4 linked regions of the Homo sapiens genome follow. The protein of the gene in region 2 interacts with the protein of the main gene of each other region in a pairwise test. Each region holds a gene or a part of one and is shown on either strand. Other genes may lie near its edges. The genes, in order: THAP6, ING5, WASF1 and TRIML2.

Region 1 (6,085 bases), on a different chromosome or scaffold from region 2:
ATGTTAATCCAATGGGAGGACTAGTTAATTGGAGGCCTTGATAAAGCACATGTGCTCCAGATGGTGAGATAAAACTTATGAAATTCAGGGGCCTATAAACATCAGTAAAATTTTGGGGGAGAAGTATCCAGTGATCTGCGGCATGCTAAGACATCCCCTCTAAAGTAAGAGACAAGTTATTTACAACCTGTATGTTCCACTATGAAGAAGAAAGCACAATGCCTGACAGGCCTCTTTGGGTTCTAAAGGCAGCATATTTCACACCTAGGAATGCTGCTCTCCTTTATATACTGGGTGACATCATATCTGACAGTTTTGAGTGAGGGCCAATGCAGAAAAGGGCTCTATGATAGGTCCATATTGTGCTGAAAGCTGGCCTGCTACGTGGGTCATCTAACCTTGCAGACCCCATATTAGAGTTATTGGTGGAGGAGAAATTAGAGCAAAACCTCTACGTACGTACTCTTCATTTTTCTCTGCCCATTTTATTGAATAACTCAATGTATAAAACCACATAACACATTACTGGATAAAATGTTTTATTTTTCAAATAAATTATAATAGATTTTCTCTCTCTCAATTATTTCTGTAATAATTTTATCTTTTTATTAAAACTAAATATATATTAAATACATTTCACCTTTTCTCAAATTACAGACTATGGTATAACTGTAATTGTCATTAGCAACCAAAGTCTATTTCCAGAAATTTAAACTTGATATAGAGAAAAATTCCACGTATCAAGCGCTTCGTACCTGACTTGGTGCTGAGGTTGAACTGTTGTATTAATGTGTTCCTGGCTCTAGAGGCCACTCCTAGCTTTTAAAGCAAAGTGGAACCCTTAGGGTCAGGCTTGGCTGCCAGAGAAATTTCTGGAGGGGGATGACTTGGGTTTTGCTTTACACAGGCCAGTTCTTTCCTGGGCTAGGGTGGAATCTCTGGGAACAGAGGACTGAGATACATACTGTGTTTAGGCATTTGTTTGGAGCAGCAGGGAGGACCCTATTTTTAATCTCACATTTCTATCAGTAATTGCTTCCCTATTAGAACAAAGAGAAAATGGGCAGCTCTGGGTCCTTAATGATACCAATATTTTGCACACAGTTATTTATTTCTCAGTTATACTAGGTCCAGTGAAAAAGAAGTGCTGAGTCTACTATGAACACAAGTAGTAAAAGTGACTGTGGCAATTTTGATAGTGGCAGACTGGGATTTTACTCTTGGAAAGGTCTTCCAGGTTTGGTGTATTCTAAGCAGCCAGTAGAGTGCTAGAATTTAGACATACTGTGTTTGGATCTACCCTCTTACTTACTCCATTGTCTTACTTTAATTTATATATTCACAAATAGGGTGAGGGAAAAATAATCTCTATTGAAAACATCTCCATAAAACCTAAGATCATACCCAAACTTTCCATTAGGGTGGCCATTTATGAACTCAAAATTAAGTAACTAAAATAAATAATGGGTAATTAATGAAAGTAGTTTTGTTTTTTTGAGATGGAGTCTTGCTCTGTTGCTCAGGCTGGAGTGCAACGGCGTGATCTTGGCTCACTGCAATCTCCGCCTCCCGGGTTCAAGCAATTCTCCTGCCTCAGTCTCCCAAGTAGCTGGGATTACAGGCACGTGCCACCATGCCCGGCTAATTTTTTTTTGTATTTTTAGCAGAGATGGGGTTTCACCATCTTGGCCAGGCTGGTTTTGAACCCCTGACCTCAAGTGATCTGCCTGCCTTGGCCTCCCAAAGTGCTAGGATTACAGGTATGAGCCACCACCCGGCCTTTTTTTTTTTTAACTACCTTTTTACTACTTTTTTTTCAGATTGTAAAAAGATATGGCCTCAGTGATTTCCTCTTAGCATAACGCTGATCTCGCAGATGTGGGTTAAATCCCATTTAGAGGGAAGGTTTGGAATCCTACATAAAAGTATAACATGCATTAAAACAGAAAATTCTTAAATACAAAAAATTCAAGTGACCATATCTTAACTAATATTAATGTAACAAAAATAAAATTACAATAAACAACTGAGCACAAAATGCAATTCAATTTTTGTTACTACAATGAAATGGCTGATACTCAAATTCTAACTGCTACAACATGGACTTCTGAATGAGGTCCATGTATGTACATGTGCTTCTAAGTAGAGTGTTGCTTTGGCAAATGGTTTTTATTCTAACCCACAGTATTTATGACTCTCAATTTCAGTTGTTTTCGGTAAGGAATTATGACAAAAGCTAAATTTATGAGACTTGGATCAATTAGGAAATAACAAGGAATTATTCTTTTGCATATTCAGTAAGAAGCTATTCTAAAGCTGCTGTTTTAATTACCCGTTTCTCTAAATAAAAGCCTTTGGACAATAATCTACTCCCCTAATTAAAATATTCTAATCCTTTCTCTCCAATTCCTATTTCAACTGGAAGAGCCACAGTTATTAATTTCTAATGGTTTCTTTTGTATTTTGTATTTTTTTAAAATGTCAGCAATACTACTTTACATATAAAATACAAAGCAGTATTAAAAGTATAGAGCTAGTACTGCCATTCAGATTTTAAACATATACCTTTATGACGAAATAGTCATGAAGCAAAGTGTTCAGATCTGTCAGAGCAACCAACCATTTAAAAATCAGATCTACGATCCTTTTTGTCTTTTTAAAGCTATTCTGGTTTACATCAAAGTGCTCCTAGTGAGGAGGAATGATGTACTGTACTGAAAACTGAGACTTCATGAGGGGTCTTCTTAAATTGGCTGTGAACAATTTTAAAAGCCCACAGATCTTCACTATGTGTTATTCTCAGAGTCAATACCACAGGAAGCCTTGTAAAAAGATCCTTTGGTACTACTGATAGCTAAAGCACCTTGGATTGAATCCAAGATGGATATGCATTACAAATGAATTGTGCTTTGTAGTAAAATGCATTTAAAGTAAAATTCAATGTACTTACCATAAAGCACATGTAAGTAAAGGTACTCCTTTGAAGCCAAATATCTGGAGAAGTGTCCAATTCCTTCTACTATAGCTTAATGTGACTAATTTGACATCATTTCTTTAGCTCTGTGAAATTTTCTTGAGATTTTAACATCTTACAATAGTGACCTGGCACTAGTGTAGGTCTATAAAACATAATTGTCACAAGACACAAATACATAATTACCACAAATTTCTGCATATTTTCAAAAAAGTCTTTGGATAACAACTATAATGCATAATGCTCCAGAGAATCCAAAGCAGCACTTTAAATGATGGATATTATTTAGTGATGGTAAATGAGATTTTATAAAAATTTGTACCAATGACAATTTTAGGTGGAACGTAACATGAAATTATTTCATGAAATATAGTCCTGTTCTATGCTCTCCTGACAACAGTCCCAACAGAAAGTGTCCAGTCTATTTGCTGTTTCTTGGCTGATCAGACATTCATCCTTTAATTCCCTGATTGTCTTCCTCAATGATTTCTGAAAACGTTTTTCTCGGTCTAAAACATTCCGTAGACTTTCCTTTGTATCCTCTAGCTCGCCGATCACATGATCTAATTTATGCTTAAGTTTCTTTGGACTGTCCATTACACTGTAGCTATGTTCCTAAAAACATAAACACCAAGTTATTAAATCAGACAGATATGTAGTTGGATAAAAGCTTATAACTAGGTCTAAGCTGTTTCTTCATTTACAATGCCTGGAGAACATTTTTAAGTTGGTGATAGAGGTTTAAGGAACACAGGAAGAAGATGGGGGTAGAAGCAATATTTAGGGTGCTAAGGGCATCCCTCCTTTTACTAAGGCCAGGCATACACAAAGACTGCAGAATATTATGGATGGGAAGCACTTATCTCTATGAATAGCATGACACTTGCAATGACTCTACAGCTTTTGTTCATTCAATGTGGTGCTGCTAAGTTTAATTTTTACCTATCAAACAAATTTAAATTAAGTTTTTAACTGGGTTACTTTATTGGATGGCTATTGCATTTGATAAGGTGTGACAGGAAAAGAGTACTGCAGCAGGTTCTCAGGCTCGGTGTTGGGGATTTAGAGAGGACTCTGGTCTTGGAATTTTCAAGAGACAACTCCTCTTGGTGTTTATTATGGTTATGCTTAAATTTGCTGGGTATGCTTTTATTCCTTTTTCATTTGAGAATAGGGAAAATAACACTGACATAGCTTATAAAGGTACTATAAAATAATTTTGAAAAGCTATTATTTAATATTAAAATTAGTAAAGAAGACTTTTATTTCCAGCCAAGATGAAGTAACAGAGACTGGATTGACCCCTACCTCCAAGAACCAACACAAGGCTAAAAGACAGAAAAAAATAGCTCTTAAGATAATGGATATTTGGCAAGGACAGCAGCTATTGTGGACAGATGGGAAGCAAAGAGGTGAGACCTAAGACTGCTCCAGCTAACTGCCTGAGAGTTTCTCGGCCTCAGGGCAAGGAAGGGAAACCCAGGCAGAGCTTAGCAGACTGAGCTGAGGAGGTAGTGCAAAACATCCAGGGAGACCAAAGTAGCTACAGTTCACAGGACAAAGTACTAGACAGGTGAGAGCTGCACAGAAAAAACTCAAGATCTTCAGAGGCTCCCCTTTGAGTATTCCATGGAGTAAGATCAGCACATGCACATGAGGAAACTACTCAAGGCTGAGGAAAGAACAACCAGAGATTAGGAGTGCCCTGTGCTCACAGGGTATAGCCACTATTCCCACTAGCCAGACTTGAAAATGTCAAGATTCATGGACACTAAGTATGCAAAACAGTCTTGTCAAACAAAGTAAAATCTGAAAGGGTCGAACAGTTTCTAACTAACTGTACTCCAGAACAATGCTCAAGAAAACATGATACAAAAATATCTAGCATCTGGCAAATTAAAACCCAAAATTCATGGCATGCAAAATTTACCAGGCATGCAAATAAGCAGGAAAACATTAGTCATAATAAGAGATAAATCAATCAATGGAAACCAAGCCGGAACTGACACAAATGTTAGAATTAGCAGACAATTAAGAAAGTTATTAAAATTGTATTCTATATATTCAAAAAGTTAAGTACATAAAATATATAAAAAAGACTCTAATAGAATATCTACAGATAACTGATGTGTGAGGTAAAAAAATACACTGGAGAGAATGGCAGTGTATTTTTTGAAGAAGAAAAGATTTCGTGAATGTAAAGTTACAGCAACAGGAACTATCCAGTATGGACTACAGAGAGAAAAGGAGATAGAAAAAAAATAAAGCATCAGTAACATGTTGCACAATTTCAGACAGCCTAATATACACATAATTAGAATTCCTGAAGGAGGGGAAAAATTGGGATAGAAAGAAATATTTGAAGAAATCATGGCCAAAATTTTTCCAAGTTTGATAAAAAGTATAAACTGCTAAATAAAAAAGCTCAACAAATCTTAATTACAAGAAATATGAAGAAAATGAAACCAAGGCATATCATCATCAGATTAGGCAAAAGCAGTAGAAAAAAACAAAAATTATTGTCCAGCACGGTGGCTCACGCCTGGCCCAGCACTTAGGGAGGCCGAGGCAGGGGGATCGCCTGAGCTTAGGAGTTTGAGACCAGCCTGGGCAACATGGAGAAATCTGGTCTCTACAAAAACAAACAAAAATTAGCTTGGCATGGTGGCACATGTCTGTAAGTCCCAGCTACTCAGGAGGCTGAGGTGGAGGGATTGCTTGAGCCTGGGAGGTTGACGCTGCAGTGAGTTGTGAGTGTGCCACTGCACTCTAGCATGGGTGACAGAGGGAAACCCTGTCTCCAAAAATAAATAAATAAAAAATTTAAAAAAAGAAAAATTCTTAAAAGCAAAGAAAAAAAGAAGTATTAGGTACAGAGAATAAAGGTGAGTATGACATTAATTAAATTTTTCATTAGAAATGGTGCATGTAAGAATACAGCAGGGCAACGTCTTAAAAAGTACCAAAAACAACTGCCCCCGCCCCCAAAACTGTTAACCTAGAATTTGATTACCTAGTGAAAATATCTTTCAAAAGTGAAGATTAAACTTTTTAAGCAACAGAAATACTGAAAGAATTCATCACCAGCATAGTTGCACTATAGGAAATGTT
Region 2 (7,031 bases):
GCCGAGGCAGGAGGACATCAGAGGAAGACACACCAAAGAAAAAGAAGCACAAAGGAGGGTAAGAGGCTTTCCCCTCTTTTTCCCAAAAGAACGAATACCCATAGCCTGTATCCCGGATGTAGGAACACTGATGGAAGCTGACCCGAGTGAAGTGCACCCCGTGTGCCGGGTGGTATTCTGATTCTTACGCTGCGCGCCTGTCGTCAGCCTGTCCTCACCGCAGCCTTTGAGGGGGTGCCGTTGTCAGGGGCATTTTCAGTGTCGCAGGGACCTGCCCAGGCTTTAGGGCTGCTGTGGTGCGGCTGGGCTGCACCTGGAGTCTGACTCCAGTGCCTGTCCTCTTAGCCACAGTGTGTGCTGCCCCACTAGGGACAGGAGGATGGTGAGCAACGTGTTGTTGACAGAGGCCAATGTAGACCACTCTTTAAGTAGCTAGATTTCTGTATATCTGTCAGTTATTTTATGTGTCAACATATAGTGTGCATATATTCATTGTTAATTATGTGGCCACATTTATTAAATAGACATGTCATTTAACTTGAAGTTTTTTGAGATACTTTATTTAAAGCATTCTCCCACTGACACCCTCCCTGCCAAAGGTGTTGTATACCCTCCAAAGAGATCGTAGCATTACCTCAGAGGAGTGACATTTAGACTAAAGAGAAAATGCTGAAATGCCACGAAGCCTCTGTGGAGATGATCTCACAGAGGGAGGGTCAAAGAGTGTAAGTTTTGGGCACGGTAGCTCATGCCTATAATTCCCGCACTTTGGGAGGCCAAGGCGGGAGGATCACTTGAGCCCAGGAATCTGAGACCAGTCTGGGCAACCAAGTGAGTCCCCCATCTCTACAAAAAATAGAAAAAATTAGCTGAGGGTGGTGGTGTGGGCTGTAGTCCCAGCTACTAGGGAAAGCTGAGCTGGGAGGATCATGAGCCACGATCGCACCACTACATTCCAGCCTGGGCCACAGCATGAGACTCTGTCTCAAAAAAAAAAAATAAAGAGAAAAAAAGAGTTCTTCTTGACAAAAAAGGGACAATTTTCTTTTTTTTTTTTTTTGAGATGGGGTTTCGCTCTTGTTGCCCAAGCTGGAGTGCAATGGCGCCATCTCGGCTCACTGCAACCTCTGCCTCCCAGGTTCAAGCGATTCTCCTGCCTCACCCTCCTGGATAGCTGCAACTACAAGTGCGCACCACCATGCCCGGCTAAGTTTTTGTATTTTTAGTAGAGATGGGATTTCACCATGTTAGCCAGGCTGGTCTCGAACTCCTGACCTCAGGTGATCCACCTGCCTCGGCCTCCCAAAGTGCTGGGATTACAGGCATGAGCCATCACACCCGACCCAATTTTCAGTTTTTTTTTTTTTTTTTTTTTGAGATGGAGTCTTGCTCTGTCCCTCAGGCTGGAGTGTGGTGGCGCGATCTCAGCTCACTGCAACCTCTGCCTCCCAGGTTCAAGCAGTTCTCCTGCCTGAGCCTCCCAAGTAGCTGGGACTACAGGTGCATGCCACCACACCCAGCCAATTTTTTTTTATTTTTTGTAGAGATGAGGTTTCACCTTGTTAGTCAGGATAGTCTTGATCTCCTGACCTCGTGATCCACCTGCCTTGGCCTCCCAAAGTGCTGGGATTACAGGCGTGAGCCACTGTGCCCAGCCCCAATTTTCAGTTTTTTAGCTAGTGCTTAGCCTTTTGGCCGGGCGAGGTGGCTCATGCCTGTAATCGCAGCACTTTGGGAGGCCAAGGCAGGTTAATCACCTGAGGTCAGGAGTTCAAGACCAGCCTGACCAATATGGTGAAACCCCGTCTCTACCAAAAATGCAAAATACTTAGCTGAGTAGTTGGCAGCTGCCTGTAATCCCAGCTACTCGGGAGGCTGACGCAGGGAGATTGTTTGAACCCGGGAAGTGGAGGTTGCAGTGAGTCAAGATCACACCACTGCACCCCAGCCTGGGTGACAGAGCAAAACTCCGTCTCAAAAAAAAAAAAAAAATCCCAACATTCTCGTATTGTAAAGTAGTGCACAGATACAGAAAACCGCACAGAACAAACATGGTTTAATTAATTTCCGTAAAGTGAAGATCTTTGTAAGTAGCACCTAGTCAGTGATTAACTGCTGCTGGAAGGCCTTCCATATGCCCTGTTAAAATCATAAACTCCTCCTGCCCCCAAATAAACATGATCCAGATTTCTATAGTGTTTATTTCCTTGTTTCTTTAATAGTTTTATAGTGCATTCCTAGACACTATACATTATAGTTTAGTCCTGTTGTTTTTCTAACCTTTTAAATTAACTTTATTAAGGAATAATTTACATACAATAAAATGTTATTCTAAGTGTACAGTTTGATGTTGCATTCAGTTCCTTTAAAGTTATGGAAGTATTCAGGCTTTCTATTTCTTCTCGAGTCAGTTTTGGAAAAAATCTGTGTCTTTCAAGAAATTTGTTTCATGTAAGTTGTCAGATTTTTTTGACATCAGGTTGTTAATAATTTTGCATTATTATGGTTCTGATGTGTCTGTTATGATGACCCCTCTTTCAGTCCTGATACTGGTAATTTATGTTTCTCTCATTTTGTCTTGATCCTTTTTTTTTTTTCCCTGAGGGCAGGGTCTAGCTGTGTCACCTAGGCTGGAGTGCAGTGGCATGCACATGGCTCACTGCAGCCTCCACCTCCCTGTCCCCAGGCTCAAGTGATTCTCCCACCTCAGCTCCCGAGTAGCTGGGACCACAGACATGCGCCACTATGCCTGGCTAATTTTTTGTAGAGACAGGGTTTCATCATGTTGCCCAGGCTGGTCTCAAACATCTGGGCTCAAGCAGTCCGCCTGCCTCAACCTCTCCGTGTGTTGAGATTACAGGCGTGAGCCACTGCGTCTGGCCGTCTTGATCTTTTTAGAGAACTAGCTTTTAGTTTCATTATTTTTATTGTTTTCTCTATTTTTTTGTTTGCTATTGCATTTGTTTCTACTCTCTATTTCCTGTTTTCTACTCAGGTTTACTTTGCCTATACTATTCTAGCTTTTTAAGGTGGAAGTAGCTTGCATAATTGATTTTTATATCTTCCTTGTTCTAATTATTATCTTTGTTGCACTCCACAAATTTTGATATATTATGATTTTGATATAATTTTGATATTGTTTTAAATTTTTATTTCGTTTACCTATTTAAAATATTTTAGAATGTTTTTCTTGTTTTTTGAGATGAGGTCTCACTCTGTCACCCAGGCTGGAGTGTAGTGGCATGATCCTGGCTCACTGCAGCCTCCACCTCCTGGGCTCAAGAGATCCTCCCACTTCGGCCTCCCAAGTAGCTGGGACCACAAGTGCATGCCACCATGCCTGGCTAATTTTTTATATTTTTGGTAGAGATGGAGTTTCACCATGTTGCCCAGGGTGGTCTTAAACTCCTGAGCTCAAGTGATCCACCCACGTTGGCCTCCCAAAGTGCTGGAATAGAATTTTTTTTTTTTTTTTTTTTTTTTTGGTGAGACGGAGCCTCACTCTGTTGCCCAGGCTTGAGTGCAGTGGTGTGATCTTGGCTCACTGCAACCTCCACCTCCCAGGTTCAAGCAATTCTCTTGCCTCAGCCTCCTGGGTAGCTGGGATTACAGGCACGTATCACCATGCCTGGCTAATTTTTTTTTGTATTTTTAGTAGAGACAGGGTTTCACCATGTTGGCCAGGCTGGTCTTGAACTCCTGACCTCAGGTGATCTGCCTGCCTTGGCCTCCCAACATACTGGGATTACAGGCGTGAGCCACCGCACCTGACCTAGAATTTTTTTTTTCATGCTACTTCTTTGCCCTATAACTTATGTAGAAGTATGTGTCTCAATTTCCAAATAATTTGGGATTTTTCAGATACCTTTCTAATTTTAATTTTTTAGTTGACTTCTGTTGTGGTCAAAGAACATTACATAATTGAAATCCTTTGAAAGCCAGCTAATTTTTGTATTTTTAACAGAGACAGGATTTCACCATGCTGGGCAGGCTGGTCTCGAACTCCTGACCTCAAATGATCTGCCCACCTTGGCCTCCCCTCCCTGTAAAGTGCTGGGATTACAGGCATGAGCCACCGCACCCGGCCTTCATTGCAATATTTGGTCTGTTCATATTTAACATAATTAATGATATGGTGGGATTTAGGTTCACCATCTTGCTATTAGTTTTCTGTTTGTTCCTTCTGCTCCTTTGCTGTCTTCTTTTGGACTAATCAGGTATTTTTTAGTATTCCGTTTTTTTCCCCACTCTTGTCTTATTAGCCATGCTTTTTTTTTTTTTTTTTTTTTTGAGACGGAGTCTTGCACTGTTGCCCAGGCTGGAGTACAATTTGCAATGGCATGATCTTGGCTCACTACAACCTCTGCTTCCCAGGTTCAAGCGATTCTCATGCCTCAGCCTCCGCAGTAGCTGGGATTATAGGTGTGCGCCACCACACCCGGCTAATGTTTTTGTATTTTTAGTAGAGACAGGTTTTCACCATTTTGGCCAGGCTGGTCTCGAACCCCTGACCCCAAGTGATCCACCCACCTCGGCCTCCCAAAGTGCTAGGATTACAGGCGTGAGCCACTGCCCCGGCCCCTGTATTTTAAGGATTGTTCTAGTGTGTGCACTCAGTTTCCTTAAGTTATCACAGTGAGCTTCAGATATTACACTATTTGATGTTTAACGTGTGGCTCCACACAAGTGTTCTTCCATTTCCTGCCTTTGTGCTGTTGTCCTTCACTTTGCCTGTGATCTGAGCTTCCCAGCACGTTATTACCTTAGATGCAAACCACTGATGACGTGAAACACGCCTTAAAATATATGTGGAATGTAAAGATGTTGAACTCACAGAAGTAGAGAGTAGAATGGTGGTCAGGCGCTGGGGTGGTCAGGGGAGACGTTGGATACAGAATTTCATTTAGATAGGAGGAATAAGTTCAAAAGATCCGTTTTACAACATGGTGACTACAGTTAATAACAATATAGTCTCAAAAAAATGTGTAGATTTTAAGTGTTCTCACCACAAAAGTCACCCCATATATAGTTACCTCATATAGTTGCCATTTCTGGTAACCTTCATTTTTTTTTTTTTTTGAGACAGAGTCTTGCTCTGTGTCCCAGGCTGGAGTGCAGTGGTGCGATCTCAGCTCACGGCAACCTCTGCCTCCCAGGTTCAAGTGATTCTTGTGCCTCAGCCTCCTGAGTAGCTGAGATTACACCCACCTACTCACCTGGTTAATTTTTGTATTTTTAGTAGAGATGGGGTTTTGCCATGTTGGCCAGGCTGGTCTCGAACTCCTGGCCTCCAGTGACCCTCTCGCCTCAGCCTCCCAAAGTGGCAGGATGACAGGCATGAGCCACCGCGCCTGGCCCAACTATTATTTCTTAATATTTATTTTCTTTCTTTAAAAATTTTTTTTCCATACATATTCTGCTTACGTATATTTCTTTATGTGGATGCAAATTTCTGTCTTGTCATTTCTCCTCTACTGAAGAACTTTAACATTTTTTGCAGTACATGTATGCTGATGGTGATGAATTCTCTGTTTTTGTTTCTCTGAAAATGCTTTTATTTCACTGCGTATAGAATTTTAGGTTGACCTTTTTTCTTTTATCGCTAAAGATGTTCTCTCATTTTCTTCTGTCTTTCATTGATTCTGATGATAAATTACTGATAATAATTATTTTTGGTGGTTTCTTTTTTTTTTTTTGCTTTTAAGATTTCTCATTGTCACTGGCTCTTAACAGTTTGGTTATGATGTGTATTGGTGTGATTTTTTTGTGTATATTTTGCGTGGAACTTGTTGAGCATCTTTGAACTGTTGGTTTATACTTTGCATCGAATTTGGAAAATTTTCAGACAGTTCTTCCAGTATTTTTGTGCTCTCCTTTCTCCTCTTCCTGCTGTCCAGCTCCCTGTGCGTTCCTTAGCTTAGATTTTCTCACAGCTCACCGAGGCTCTGCTTACTTTCTGCAAGCTTTTTTCTTTCTGTACTTCAGTTTGATTTGTTTCTATTACTTTATTTATTTATGAGACAGGTTCAGGCTCTGTGGCCCAGGCTGGAGTGCGGTGGCGCAATCTCCGCTCACCGCAGCCTCTGCCTCCCGGGTTCAAGCCATTCTCCCGCCTCAGCCTTCCAAGTAGCTGGGATTACAGGTGAGCGTCACCACACCCGGCTAAGTTTTGTATTTTTAGTAGAGTCGGGGTTTCAGCCTGTTGGCCAGGCTGGTTTCAAACTCCTGGCCTCAAGTGATCCGCCCAGCTCAGCCTCTCACCTTCCCTTTCCTTCTTTCTTTCCTTCCTTCCTTTCTTCTTTCCTCCCTTCCTCCCTCCCTCCCTCACTTCCTTCCTCCTTCCCTCCCTCCCTCCCTTCCTCCCTCCCTCCCTTCCTTCCTTCCTTCCTTCTTTTCTCTTTCTGTCTTTTTTTTTTTTTTTTTGAGACGGTCTTGCTTGGTCACCCAGGCTGGAGTGCACTGGTACAATCTTGGCTCACTGCAAGCTCCGCCTCCCAAGTTCAAGCGATTCTCTGCCTCAGCCTCCCAAGTAGCTGGAATTACAGGCACGTGCCACCATGACTGGCTAATTTTGTATTTTTAGTATAGACAGGGTTTCACCGTGTTATGCAGGCTGGTCTCGAACTCCTGGCCTCAGGTGGATCTGCCTGTTTTTGGCCTCCCGATGTGCTGGGATTACAGGCGTGAGCTGCTGTGCCCGGCCCTAAGTTAGTTTTAATCTCCTTTAATACATTTTTCATTTAAGAGATTGTAGGGCTGGGTGCTTTGGCTCATGCCTGTAATCTCAGCACTTTGGAAGGCTGAGGTGGGAGGGTCACTTGAGTAGCCGGGATCACAGGCATGTGCCACCATTCCTTGGTAACCAGCTTTTAAAAAAACATAATCAGTCCTATTTCCCTGCTGAGGGTACATGTCTCATGATTTATTAGCTGTCTGACTTTAGATATAAAGGAAGCGTGGAGAGGGAAATTTCTGTTCTCCCCAGGAGGTGTTCGTTCTGTTTTAGTCCAGGCCAATAGGGCTGGGGGCCT
Region 3 (7,031 bases), on a different chromosome or scaffold from region 2:
CTTAATCTACGTTACCAATATCTGTACAAGATTCCATTGCTCCTTACCAAAATGTTCCTCTCTTCCTTGGTACACCTAACTCCTATCTGTTCTTCAAGATTCATTATAAGCTTTGTGGGAAGGGTTTACCCTGCCTGCTAGCTAAAGCAGATGCTATTTTGTGTTATCTAAACCCTTTATGCATACCTCTGCTATGGCACTTATTATGCCCTACTCTAATAATCTAATTGCTCATCTGCTCCCCATCAGACTGTGTTCTTTCTGTGGAGTTATAAAGACTTCAGTATTTAACTATATGGACCCAATAAAATAAAACTGTCAAAATACAAGATTAATGAAGTTCAATATATGCAACAAAACACAAATATACAAAAATTAACCTCAATTTTTTAATCTCTTGTAATACCTTCTGCTTCCTCTTTTCCTTCCTCTTATCCTCTGTATCTTGCAACATTTTTTCTTTCCATAGATCAAAGAAATACGAAGGATTGGTATAAAACTTCAGACCTTCTTTACCATCATCTCTGAAATATAAAATATCAATTAAAACACACATTAGTAAGACTTAGGCAATCAGAATAGAAATAATTTCACTAAAATGTTTATCCTCTTACATTAATAAAATACAGCATGTTAAAATAGTGCCAAAATAAAACTGAATATTGCACCAATAGAAAATTTCTCACAAATATGAGGAAACAAAGAAAAGTGGTAAAGCAGATGCTTTTCCAAGTTAGTACTAACAATTTAAAGTATAGCTGGGCAATTTTCATCCCTAATTTCTGCTGAATCCCAAATTTTCTAAAAAGTCCTTTGGGCAATTCCAATAATTACAAATAGCTCTGCCAAAGATAAAAGCCTGAAAAGACAGTAACATCATCTAGAAGACAGAAATTTTGCAGTTTCTGCCAATACTATGATTTATTTATTATCTTACTAAATCCAAAAGATATCATGTAATAGTCATTCTAACAGTCACATTTATATCTAATTATCTGCACACTGACTTACAATTTCAAATAACTCTCTGAATACTATTTTATTCAGGTTGTGTTGTACATTACCCATTTAACAAACCATGTGAAAGAACTTCAAAGAAAGGCTAAATAATTCCAGATTTTATTCTAAGTGGTAAAAAGCATTTTATAAAGGTACTACCTATTCATTATGTAAGAAGTTAATGTATACAAATCAAATCAAGAGTAGACGAAACAGGCCGGGCGCAGTGGCTCACGCCTGTAATCCCAGCACTTTGAGAGGCCAAGGCGGGTGGATCACGAGGTCAGATCGAGACCATCCTGGCTAATACAGTGAAACCCCATCTCTACTAAAAATATAAAAATTTAGCCGGGCTTGGTGGCAGGCGCCTGTAGTCCCAGCTACTCGGTAGGCTGAGGCAGGAAAATGACATGAACCTGGGAGGCAGAGCTTGCAGTAAGCCTAGGTGACAAAGTGAGACTCCGCCTCAAAAAAAAAAAAAAAAAAAAAAAAGAGTAGACAAAACAAGCAAAAATTATGTTTATTTTGTTAGTAGGACAGAATTTTGAGCTTTTTCCATTTGATTAAAAATTAAATTAAAAGGACAATAATAACTCCTTATCTCTTTACATTAATAAGTTTACCAGTGGCTTTTCTAAACTTGTAAAAACAACTCTTTTAAATAGGTCTTGTCTTTTGTATGCCACAATCTTAAGAATTCATCCAATGAATAAAAGCAAAGGTTTTCCAAAGGTGGTGGACAGAGAGGGCTCTCTGTGTTGGCTAGAACCCCAATGAAATAAAGAATGTTTGGGGATTTAGCATTTCAATCTGAAGTCTGAGATAAATAATAGGGCTACTATTTATTAACCTACCTACCTATAAGGAGTGAGTATATTGAGAGGTGGAGGCTGTTCACAAACATCGTACGTCTCCTGTAATGGAATAGGCAAAGTCTTGCGATCGAAAAGCTGCTGGTCTTGAATTGTAGAACTTCGGAAAGCTTTCCTCATTGTTATATCTTGCAAAGACACTAAAACAAAAATCAAGAATTCATTTTATTTTATTTTACTAAGATGATTTAACATAAGGGCAAATTCACATACTTTATTTGTCTAAAAGTCAGCATGGCTCAAGAGGTTGTGACCTTAGTGGCTTATGAATCAGAAACCATATTTTAAATGTTCTATCATTATATTTACCCATATCATTCTGCGCCTAATTTTCCCAATCAGATAGGTTTTAATTAACCTTTGATTTTGAAGGCTCAGAGGGCCCTAATGACACCTGAAACATATCTACATTTCAACCAAATATACCTTTTTCTTTCTTCTACCTGCCATCATGGGCCCCCACCAACTTAGGTTCTCTTCTCCTATAATCTTCTTTTCCATCTCCCTTTATTCCTTTTTTTAGCTTACACCAGTAACTCTGAAAGGAATTACTTATTAGTGGCACTGTGGGCTAAACACGCTGTTAACCTCTATGCTACATATACTATAAATATTGTATGTGTACTCTCAAGTTAAAACAAACTTTACTGTAAAGGAAATACTTTTAAGTATTAGGTGATCTATATTATTCTCTTTTTCACTTATCTTTTATCTGTACTATAAGGATTTCTACCTAACTATAAGCTCTTGAAGACTCAGACTATCTTGTACATTAGTATTCCCAGTCACTAGCACAGCCCCATCACATACATGATTTAAAAACAACTTCATTTATTTTGAACTGTGCAGCATGTTAAAATAAAAAACATACAAAAATGCTGCATTCTTAATTCTTACACTGATATCCCGATATTAAAAAATAAGGTAATTTCTTGATATTTAATATGGCCTTAAGTATACAGACAAATGCCCTATAACATAGCAAGGTCAGTATAACAATCCTAACAATTCTTTTTTTTTTTTTTTTTGAGACAGAGTCTCGCTGTGTCACCCAGGCTGGAGTGCAGTGGCACGATCTCGGCTCACTGCAACCTCTTCCTCCCGGGTTCAAGCAATTCTCCTGCCTCAGCTTCCCAAGTAGCTGGGACTACAGGCACCTGCCACCATGGCCGACTAATTTTTTTTTTTTTTTAAATTTTTAGTAGAGATGAGGGTTCACTATGTTGGCCAGGCTGGTCTTGAACTCCTGACCTCATGATCTGCCCGCCTCAGCCTCCCAAAGTGATGGGATTACAGGTGTGAGCCACCACATCCAGCCAACAATTCTTAAGTTATCCTTCTCCTTAAAATAATATTCCTGTCATCCCCTCAAGTAAATTCACTCAACATGAACATGGGACCAATGGCACAGAAGGTACAATAGGCTGGCTCTGCAATGGTGGCACCATAATTCCATTTCTAGCAATTCCACTGCTGCATGACCTGTAACACACTTATAAATACTAAAATAAAATTCAGAGAAGCAAAAAGTTTTTCCCCACTATCACTAAAAAGTGGCACTGGAGATACAGTATTTAATGAGTACATACTATATGTGCTAGATGGTTTCACTAAATTTCATTTCATTTAATCTTTACAATTCAGTAAGACAGGAATTATTACTCCATTGTGAAATATAAGAAAGCTAAGGCTAGGAAATAGTATATAACTGACCTGAGGTTAAACAGTTAATAAACAGCAGAGCCAGAACAGAAAAGTCAGATCTGTCTACCTTTGAGGCTAATCTTTTTGCCACAATACCACACGCTGTTCTCAGGCTCCTGCCAGAAGTGGGTTGTGTTTTCTGCAGTCAAAGTGGATCAATTCTTGCCACTCTCCTGCCCCACTTATTAATCAATAAGTATGTAATTAAGATGAAACCTAGTGTTTAATCTCGCCAAACTTCCTTGGTAAAGGATGTAAGAAACATGTAAACTAATAAGCATGATGTACTTTTCTATCTTCAACTCCTCTCATTTATCGTTTGTCTTATTATTAACAGACTATTGTGGTGAAGCTCCTTCCACTTGCCAACAATAACATCTGATATTAATAAAATAGAATTATAAAGCAATAAATTAGCATAATGCTTATAAACATAATTGACTTAAATATAATTGTACAAGTCTTTGTTTAAAATTCATTTAAAAAATATTTTCAAAATTGATAGTTTTTAGTTACTACAAAACGGTTAAAAAAACTGATACCACACTGTGCTATTTAGTACTGTACACATGATGTTTTTTTTTTAATTCCCACTGAATTAAAAAACCTAGGTTAAATAACTGAAAACTCCTTCAATACAACCTCTCCAAAACAATTTCAAATTAAGTAGTTCAGCTTTTAGATTCTGAATTCTTCCCCCACTGCTCCACAAAATTTTAAAGGAAACTAGGTATAATTCTGACAGTATAGCTGTTGACATATTAAAATTTGTTTTTTAACACAAACATCTTAATTTATTTACTGTTATCTGTATTTTCACTTTCAAGTTTAATGGTGGCTCTAAGACATTTGTTAAAATGTAACAATATTTTGAAACTAAATGTTGATTTTTATTTCTGTTACATATGAGAACTGCCTGTGTATTTCTCTATTATTTGATGGCATAAATTTATATTTAAGTGATAAGCAGTTGAGTTATCTGAAAAACAAATTTTGGCTATAAATTATGTATTTGAAAGCATGACCATAAAATATTTTTCACCACTAACAATGATTTTATTTCAAGAATTCCATGAGGTGTAATTAATGTATTGATACATGCACATGTTTCAAAGGATACCACCAAGAAAGACAACCTAAAGAAGGGGAGAAAATATTTGCAAATCATATATTTGATAAAGGATTTAGATCCAGAATATACACAGAATTCCAACAAGTCAAAAATAAAAACACGAATAATACAAATTATAAATGGGCTAAGGAATTAAATAGACATTTCTCCAAAGGAGATATTCAAATGGCCTGTAAGCACATGAAAACATACTCAACATCATTAGCCATCAGGGAGATATAAATACATGCTATATGAATGAACCTTGAAAACATTATGCTAAAAGAAGCCAGTCACAAAAGACCACATACTGTACTATTCATTCATATGAAATATCCATACAGACAGATCCATACAGACAAATCCATAGAGGCAAATCCATACAGACAGAAAGATCAGTGATTGCTAGGGGTTGAGCTGAAGGGGAAACAGAGTGACTGCTAATGAGTACAGGGCTTCTTTCTGGAGTGATACAAATACTCTAAAATTGATTGTGGTGACGGTTGCATAACTTGAATATACTAAAAAACACTGAATTGTACACTTCAACTTTAAATGGGTGAACTGCAAGGTATACGTAGGTTGTGAAATATATCTTAATAAAGCTATTTTTTAAGTATTATTTCCTTTTCTTCTTGTATCCAGAGCTCTGAGTTTACATTTTACAAGTGGTACAAATCTAGTATGCCAAGTATTTGCCTCTCCTTATTTACACATTGGATTATTTCAAAAGTAGCTGGTTCCATCACTAAGACATCTATCATTACATTATATTTTTGTTCTTTCCACTGACATCCTTTAGTATTTTTATTGTTAAAGTTTAGATCTATTATATAATTTGCATTTATACTAAAAATTAGATCTATCATATAATTTGTGTTTATACTATTTAATGCAACAAAAATATTTTGAAGAGAGTGTAAGAAATTCCATTAAACAATTCTCTGTGGTAGGTAAGTGCAAATTATGTTCTTAGTATTGCATTTCTTTTTGTGAAACAAACAAAAAGATGCATTTGGGAAACGTCGGCATTCAATGTATTCTATCAAGGCATAAAACATGATTTTACCACCGAAGTTTCTACAATTATTTTAGCCTATCTGATTATTCCTGATTTAATATCTTGGTATAGAATGTTTACACCCTACATACTGGCAATTTGTTTTTGAAATGTTCATTTAAAGTAGGAAGTTGCATTCAGTTAAATAACTAATAAGACTTTAGCAATATGCACATACAAAAGCATATTAAAAGCAGTTACATAGCCAGGTGTAGTGGCTCATGCCTATAATCCCAACACTTTGGGAGGCCGAGGTGGGCAGATCACAAGGTCAGGAGTTCGAGACCAGCCGGACCAACATGGTGAAACCCCATCTCTACTAAAAATAAAAAAATTAGCCAGGCGTGGTGGCAGACACCTGTAATCCCAGCTACTCAGGAGGCTGAGGCAGGAGAATTGCTTGAACCTGGGAGGTGGAGGTTGCAGTGAGCCGAGATTGCGCCACTGCACTCCAGCCTAGTGACAGAGTGTCTGTCTCAAAAAAAAAAAAAAACAAAAAAAAAACCAGTTACATTCTTGTAGAATCAAACCTAAAGATTTCAGGTAATTTTCTAATAATTTTTATTTCTAAGACAAAAGTATACAAATAAATTATAAGGGAGAAATGAAAAGAGAAAGATAATGAAGAGAATGGAGGAAAATGTCTGGTTAAAATGACTTCTTTATGCAAAAAAATTAGGAGCTGTTTAGTGTACAAAAAGAAGAGATTTAAAACAGAGTAGAAAAGAAAAGCCCGGAGAATCATACTGATGGCATTTTTAGATAATTCACTGATTTATTACAATATGTACACCAAAGGACATGGGTATGATCTGTAATAAATTCATGATTAATACTGTTAAGTATATCATTCATCTCATCTAACTTAAAATATATACGTAGAAGAAAATACAATATTAATAAGCTTACATTCTTCTTCCTTTGGATCAAGCTGTGTAACACTAACAGATAAACGGTCCACACGTTCTTGCAATGAGTTGACTCTGAAGGAAAAACTATGTGCTTCATTGAATAATTCTCCAAATATATCTTCAGCATATTTACCTAAGCAAAAATGACACATATATCATAAAATTTAACATCCAGAGCACTGAGTTTTTATCTTTGCAAGCAGTAGAAATCTAGCATGATATTTGCCCTCAGATACTTTGTGATCAGAGATAAATAATGAACAATGTAATATTACAACTGGTGACCTGTTGAATTTGGAATTTATTTGGAATTACAGTTGACCCTTGAACAAAATCGTTTAACTGTAATAGTCCACTTACATGTGGATTTTTTT
Region 4 (7,031 bases), on a different chromosome or scaffold from region 2:
CCAAAAAAAAAAAAACCCTGCTTTTCTGCCTGCTACCCCAGGAACAGACATAATTAGGCAAGGCCATGATATTCTTCTGCTGAAGCAGGATTCCTCTCAAGAGACAGTTGATTCTTTGCCCCCTGTTATGTATGTTTAAGCCAATACAGATGTGTGTGCACGCAGCCCTTACTCACATTAATATGCACCTAAAACATTTCATGTTTTTTCTGTGGCTGTTTGTTCAGAAGGTTCCCTATTTTTTCATTAACTTGAAATCAATTAAAATTAAGGTATATAGATTAACTAATAAGAAATAAATAATTACGTTACTGATATCAATTTTCTTTTTATCCTTCCAAGTATACTTTACATATACTGCGTAGTCACATACGCAACTTGAGTATGTTATTTAGGGGGAAAAAACATAAACATAAGTGATAGTTTATTATATTTGATTACTAATCTGACAACTTACTTTATTCTTGGAGAACATTCCTTATTCATATACACAGAGCCATGACATCATCTTAACATGCTGAAGAGTATTCTTCCATGTATGTATGGAGCACATTTTGTGAGTCTTCTATTGACAAATACAGGGTGTTTCTAACCTCTTGCTATGAATGTTATAATTGTAACATCTGCTACTCATCAACTGCTTAACATGAACAAGACACGATTTAATAAGCTTTAGCAGATTATCTCACTCAAATCTCACAATAATTTTATAAATTAGGGGTCACTGTTATATCCAGTTTACAGCTAAAGGAACCAAGTCAAAGGTTAAGCAGCAGGTCGTAGGCCACCCAGGAGCCAGTAAACAGCTGGCTCAGATAGGAACTCCATTCATCCGGCTTCAAAGGTGAATTCTAGGCCGGGCGCGGTGGCTCACGCCTGTAATCCCAGCACTTTGGGAGGCTGAGGCGGGTGGATCATGAGGTCAGGAGATCGAGACCATCCTGGCTAACACGGTGAAACCCCGTCTCTACTAAATATACAAAAAATTAGCCGGGCGTAGTGGCGGGCACCTGTAATCCCAGCTACTTGGGAGGCTGAGGCAGGAGAATGGCGTGAACCCGGGAGGCGAAGCTTGCAGTGAGCTGAGATTGCGCCACTGCACTCCAGCCTGGAGACAGAGCCAGACTCTGTCTCAAAAAAAAGAAAGGTGAATTCTAAACCATGGCTCTAAACTGAAACTCAGTTTCAGTGTTGCCTTACCCAGGTGTCTTTTTCTATGTGTGTAAGTATGTTTGAAGCATAATACAGTAATATGTGTACAAATATATTTATAGGTATATTGTGCTTTATTTATGTCTTTTTATATGCATGTCAAGATAAATTCATAGAAATGGAGTTGCCAGGTAGGTATATAATTCATTTAATACATGTGTGGTTGTCACTGGCTATGTTATTTTGGAATTGACATAATGTTTAGCTCTTCTTTTTCTCATTTCTCAAATATGAGGATGTTGTTTTCAATATCTCACCTGTAGCATTTCCTGGAACATCTCCTCTAGCTCGGTGGCAAGCTTGATCGCTTGATTCAGAAGGGTTTCTCTCAGGTTCAAGTCAGATATGCATTCCTGCTGTCTCTGGAGATTCTGCTCACACTCTTCATTCAACAACCGGAGTCTCATACTATACTCAGACTCAATCATCTTTTTAAAATTTTGTTCCTCTTCCTTCCTCATATAGACATGATAGACTTCAGGTTAAACATGATAGATTAACAACACACACACACGTCATAATAGATAGATATCTATATCTATATATAGATATATATATCTTACACTGACCACAATGTATTCTTTCCATCTCTAACCCCAATATAAAGACAAGGAAGGCTGGGCGCAGTGGCTCACGCCTGCAATCCCAGCACTTTGGGAGGCCAAAGTGGGTGGATCACGAGGTCAGGAGATCGAGACCATACTGGCCAGCATGGTGAAACCCCATCTCTACTAAAAATACAAAAATTAGCTGGGCGTGGTGGGGAGCACCCATAATCCCAGCTACTCGGAAGGCTAAGGCAGGAGAATCGCTTGAACCTGGGAGGTGGAGGTTGCAGTGAGCAGAGATTACGCCACTGCACTCCAGCCTGGCAACAGAGCTAGACTCTGTCTCAAAAAAACAAACAAACAAAAAAAGACGAGGAAATGTAAAGTACAGAAGAAAAGGAATAAACCCAAAGGAGAAATAGAATTTGAGTCAACATCAGCCAAGACATCAACACAATTTTAGAACATAAAATGCAGACGAAGAAATGTTCATCAATGAATTGGCTGGGCGCGGTGGTTCACGCCTGTAATCCCAGCACTTTGGGAGGCCGAGGCAGGCGGATCACGAGGTCAGGAGATCGAGACCATCCTGGCTAACACGGTGAAACCCCGTCTCTACTAAAAATACAAAAAATTAGCCGGGCTTGGTGGCGGGCGCCTGTAGTCCCAGCTACTCGGGAGGCTGAGGCAGGAGAATGGCGTGAACCCGGGAGGTGGAGCTTGCAGTGAGCCGAGATGGCGCCACCGCACTCCAGCCTGGGCGACAGAGGGAGACTCCATCTTAAAAAAAAAAAAAAAAAAAAGAAATGTTCATCAATAAGGAAAAACTAAGGAAGCTATAGCCTCTGTCAAACAGAGGAGGAGACCAGGACATTGGAAAAGGGCCAATGGGATTTGCTGATGCTTGGGTAAGAGTTGTGGGGAAAAAAGGAGTCATGGACGAAAGACACCAAAAATTTTAGACTAAGCAACTGGAAGAATGGAATTACCAAAATATATAGAGAGAATCTATGGAAAGGCTGGATTCCAGAAGTGAGGAGTGTGCGTTAGCTCGGGATGTGATGAATTTGATTAGTCAATTAGACATCCAAGTAAAGATAGTAAGTAGGAAATTGGACATGAAGCCTACTACCATTTGGAAATCTGAGCTAGGGATATATATTTGAAAGTAGTCATCTTAGAGATGCTTAAATAGCATCTCTATTAAGCTATTTAAGATTCAGTGAAATTGTCCGGGCTCACGTCTGTAATCCCAGCACTTTGGGAGGCCAAGGCAGGTGGATCATGGGGTCAGCAGTTCGAGACCAGCCTGACCAACATGGTGAAACCCCGTCTCTACTAAAAATAAAAAAATTAGCCAGGCATGATGACGGGCCCCTGTAATGTCAGCTACCTGGGAGACTAAGGCAGGAGAATTGCTTGAACCCGGGAGGCGGAGGTTGCAGTGAGCCGAGATCGCGTCACTGAACTCTAGCCTGGGTAACAAGAACGAAACTTCATCTCAAAAAAAAAAAAAAAAAGATTCAATGAAATCAAGATTTATCAAGAACCTGACTACTTCTCACCACTGCTCTACCTGTCCCCCAGCTCACCATCATCTCTCCCTAATTATTGCAAGTCCCTTTGCACGTCTCTCCACCTCTGCTTTTACTCTCTTGGTTTTTTTTTTTTTTTTTTTTTTTTTGAGACGGAGTCTCGCTCTGTCGCCCAGGCTGGAGTGCAGTGGCGCCATCTCGGCTCACTGCAAGCTCCGCCTCCAAAGTTCATGCCATTCTCCTGCCTCAGTCACCTGAGTAGCTGGGACTACAGGCACCTGCCACCACACCCGATTTTTTAGTAGAGACGGGGTTTCACCGTGTTAGCCAGGATGGTCTCGATCTCCTGACCTCGTGATCCGCCCGCCTCGGCCTCCCAAAGTGCTGGGATTACAGGCATGAGCCACCACGACCAGCCTGCTTTTACTATCTTAATGTCTATTTTCATTTGGCAGCTAGCGTGTTTCTATGAAAATGGAAGTTAAATCATGTCAGCCTTCTGTTCGAAACCTTCCAGTGGTTTTGAAGCTTGTATTTCATTGAAGGCTGCCACCCTAAATGACTGACCGCCTTCTTCTGATCTCATCACCTACAGCCCCCGTTTCCTTACACAGCTCCAGCCACATACACGGCAGCCTCCAGGCCTTTCCTCTGCCTAGAATATTCCTCCCCAAGAAAACTGCATGGCCCAATCCCCCACCTCCTTCAGTGCCACCTTCTGAATAACAAGGTTCTGATCACTTTATTTACAAGCTCACTCCATTGCTTCCTTTCTCACTTAAAAAAAATTTTTTTAAACACTTCCCAGGTAACATACTATATATTAAACTTATTTTGTTTATATCCACTAGAATGCAAGTTCCACGAAAGCAGAGCTGGTTTTTTTTGTTTTCCATTGGTGAGCCCCTAGCACCTTGCATAGTCCCTGGCAAACAGTGGGATCTCAGTATTTGCTGAACACATGGTACTTGGAACTGAAAAAGAAGGGGGATCGGTTGAAAAATCCTTACCTAGCCAGGCAATTCTCCTCCACTATCTTCCCTAAGTAGGCATTTATTTCCTTTAAAAATTGAGGGAGAGAAAAGACCCAGAATCGGGGATACCTTGCACAGAATAGGATTAAGTATGAAGATACAGGCTGAAATTAGAAGTGAAATATGCCTAACAGGTGGTGAACCCTCAAATCTGAATAGCTATTCTCAAATTGCTCTTTAAAGGGTTTTAGAATTTATGTGGCAACCAGAAGTACAAGAGATGCTCATTCTCCTATGTCATTGTTATAAACGGTGTCGTTAATCTTTTTGATCATTGCAAATAGCATTGCAAATGCCATTTTACTCACCATATAATTTGTATTTCTCTTACCACGAACAAAGTTCAAATTCTTTCAATGTATTTAAAATATATTTACTTTCTTTTCTGCAAACTCTTATTTGATCGTTTTTTAAAATTAAATTTCTAGTCTTTTCCTTACTGACTTTTTTTATTTTTATTTTTTTTGAGATGGAGTCTTGCTCTGTGGCCTAGGCTGGAGTCCAGTAGTGTGATCTCGGCTCACTGCAACCTCTGCCTCCCAGTTCAAGCGATTCTCCTGCCTCAGCCTCCCGAGTAGCTGGGATTACAGGCTCGTGCAACCACACCCAGCTAATTTTTGTATTTTTAGTAGAGATGGGGTTTCACCATGTTGGCCAGGCTGGTCTCAAACTCCTGACCTCAAGTGATCCGCCCTCCTCAGCTTCCCAAAGTGCTGGGATTACAGGCGTGAGCCACCACACCCAGCTTCTTACTGACTTTAAAGAGCTTTTTATACATTAAGATATTAGCACTTTTCCTTCCTATAGATTTCACATTTTTCCTGCTTTGTGATTTGTCTTTTGACTTTGTTTATGATACACTATTTTCTAACAACATTACTGGTAATTTCCCCCCAAGAATCAAGATAAGCACTCACTGACCTGAATCATCGCCATTCTTTCTTGCTCATCAGTCAATATGCTTTTAGCTGCTTCAAGTTTCTCCCTCGATGTGTTCAATATTTCCTGGAATAACTTCTATAGAGAAAGCACAGAATTCCAGGTGAGATCATTGATTTAGAACAGTTGGATTCCTGACCTTAAACAGCCAACAACTCTGAGTATATATTTTCTTAGCCTTTAGGTTGAAGGTTCAACGAACTTATCTAATATTCTGTAATAAACATCAACTAAGGTAATGGTTTTGGAGGACCAGAATGTCTGTCCATTTCATCCATATAGGAGTTGGCCAGAGTGTTTTGGGATTTGCGTGAGTGACTCTTACCCTGTAATTCTCAGCAGCCTCTTGTATCCCACACACCATGTGATGTTTGTGCTCCTGGGACTGGAAGCATTTGCTGCAGAGTGTGATTTGGTCAACATCACAGAACAGCCGTGTTGGTTCCAGGTGTGTTTCACAATAGGCATCTTCTGTGATGTTGTGCTGTAACTGAGGGCTGAGCCTTTTGGACATCCTGGTAGGGGTCCCTAGTTGAAGACTGGACTGTATGCTTCTACTGAGGTATCTCCCTGCACTGTGAATGAGAAAAAATGGTGGCTTCCTTTGTTTTCTGGAGCAGGCACACACACTTGGCAACTTCAGAGTCCACGAAGATCCAAGGAAATAAGTCCACGCAGACAGAGCGGGTCGGCGCTCTGGACTCCTCAAATCCAACAAATTTCTGGCAGCTGCCTGCTTGGGGAAAAGACAGAGTTAGGCCAGTGTTCTAAGACCAGCGGGTTTCCCTCAGGTCTTCTGACAATCTTGAGCAATAGGCTGAAAATTAATTACAAGGAACAGCACTCACTTACGAGTCATTCAGGGGAAAACAGTGCTCTAAAGGCATCGCGCTAATTACTGAAGGAACTTCAGGACTAGAGTGAGGTAACAGAGTGCGAAAGAGGTTCGTTGATAGAATTACAGAAAAAAACCACAAGTATCTGAAAAAGTTATTAAAATACTTTCCCTTTGAGAGACAGGGTCTTGCTCTGTTGCCCAGTCTAGAGTACAGTGGCGTGACCACGGCTCACTGCAGCCTCTGGAACTCCCAGGCTCCAGCGATCCTCCCACCTCAGCTTCCGGAGTAGCTGGGACTACAGCTGGGACAAAACACATGCAACAGAAGGAATGGGGAAGCAAATAAGGGAAAACAGCTCCTCTTTTTTTTTTTTTGAGACGGAGTCTCGCTCTGTCACCCAGGCTGGAGTGCGGTGGCGCGATCTCGGCTCCCTGCAAGCTCCGCCTCCCGGGTTCCCGCCATTCTCCTGCCTCAGCCTCCCGAGTAGCTGGGACTTCAGGCGCCCGCCACCTCGCCCGGCTAATTTTTTGTATTTTTGTAGTAGAGACGGGGTTTCACCGTGTTAGCCAGGATGGTCTCGATCTCCTGACCTCGTGATCCACCCGCCTCGGCCTCCCAAAGTGCTGGGATTCCAGGCGTGAGCCACCGCGCCCGGCCGAAAACGGCTCTTCTAAGAAGCCATCAATTAAAGAGATTTGCAAAACAGTGAAGCCAAAGCCACTCTTCTCAATAATTGTTTCCGAAATAAAATTTCAGGAGTGACGTGACGCGCTGCCCGCGGTCTGGCCGTGAGCGCCCTCGCTCCTTCCTCTTTGACTCCATCTTCGCGGGGGCGGCAGCCGGAACCGCGGTTCAGTCACCAACATGCAGTTCTTGGTCCGCGCCCCGGAGCTACACGCCCTCCAGGTGACCGGCCAGGAGACG

The links.
Region 1: the proteins of ING5 (region 2) and THAP6 interact in binary tests that used the Homo sapiens proteins (3 or more experiments, as listed by UniProt).
Region 3: the proteins of ING5 (region 2) and WASF1 interact in binary tests that used the Homo sapiens proteins (3 or more experiments, as listed by UniProt).
Region 4: the proteins of ING5 (region 2) and TRIML2 interact in binary tests that used the Homo sapiens proteins (3 or more experiments, as listed by UniProt).

Annotation. Positions count from the first base shown.
Region 1 is NC_000004.12:75,524,464-75,530,548, reverse strand, and holds the end of THAP6 (THAP domain-containing protein 6), read right to left. Parts: intron 3,590-6,085; coding exon 3,335-3,589; 3' UTR 3,120-3,334; coding exon of another isoform or gene 3,090-3,119; 3' UTR 523-3,089; downstream 1-522.
Region 2 is NC_000002.12:241,712,014-241,719,044, forward strand, and holds part of ING5 (inhibitor of growth protein 5), read left to right. Parts: coding exon 1-58; intron 59-7,031. UniProt on the Homo sapiens protein: Component of the HBO1 complex, which specifically mediates acetylation of histone H3 at 'Lys-14' (H3K14ac) and, to a lower extent, acetylation of histone H4. Component of the MOZ/MORF complex which has a histone H3 acetyltransferase activity.
Region 3 is NC_000006.12:110,106,671-110,113,701, forward strand, and holds part of WASF1 (actin-binding protein WASF1), read right to left. Parts: intron 6,791-7,031; coding exon 6,656-6,790; intron 2,012-6,655; coding exon 1,858-2,011; intron 525-1,857; coding exon 407-524; intron 1-406.
Region 4 is NC_000004.12:188,099,587-188,106,617, forward strand, and holds part of TRIML2 (probable E3 ubiquitin-protein ligase TRIML2), read right to left. Parts: intron 6,425-7,031; exon of another isoform or gene 6,005-6,424; 5' UTR 5,783-6,004; coding exon 5,594-5,782; intron 5,347-5,593; coding exon 5,251-5,346; intron 1,688-5,250; exon of another isoform or gene 1,674-1,687; coding exon of another isoform or gene 1,665-1,673; coding exon 1,470-1,664; intron 1-1,469.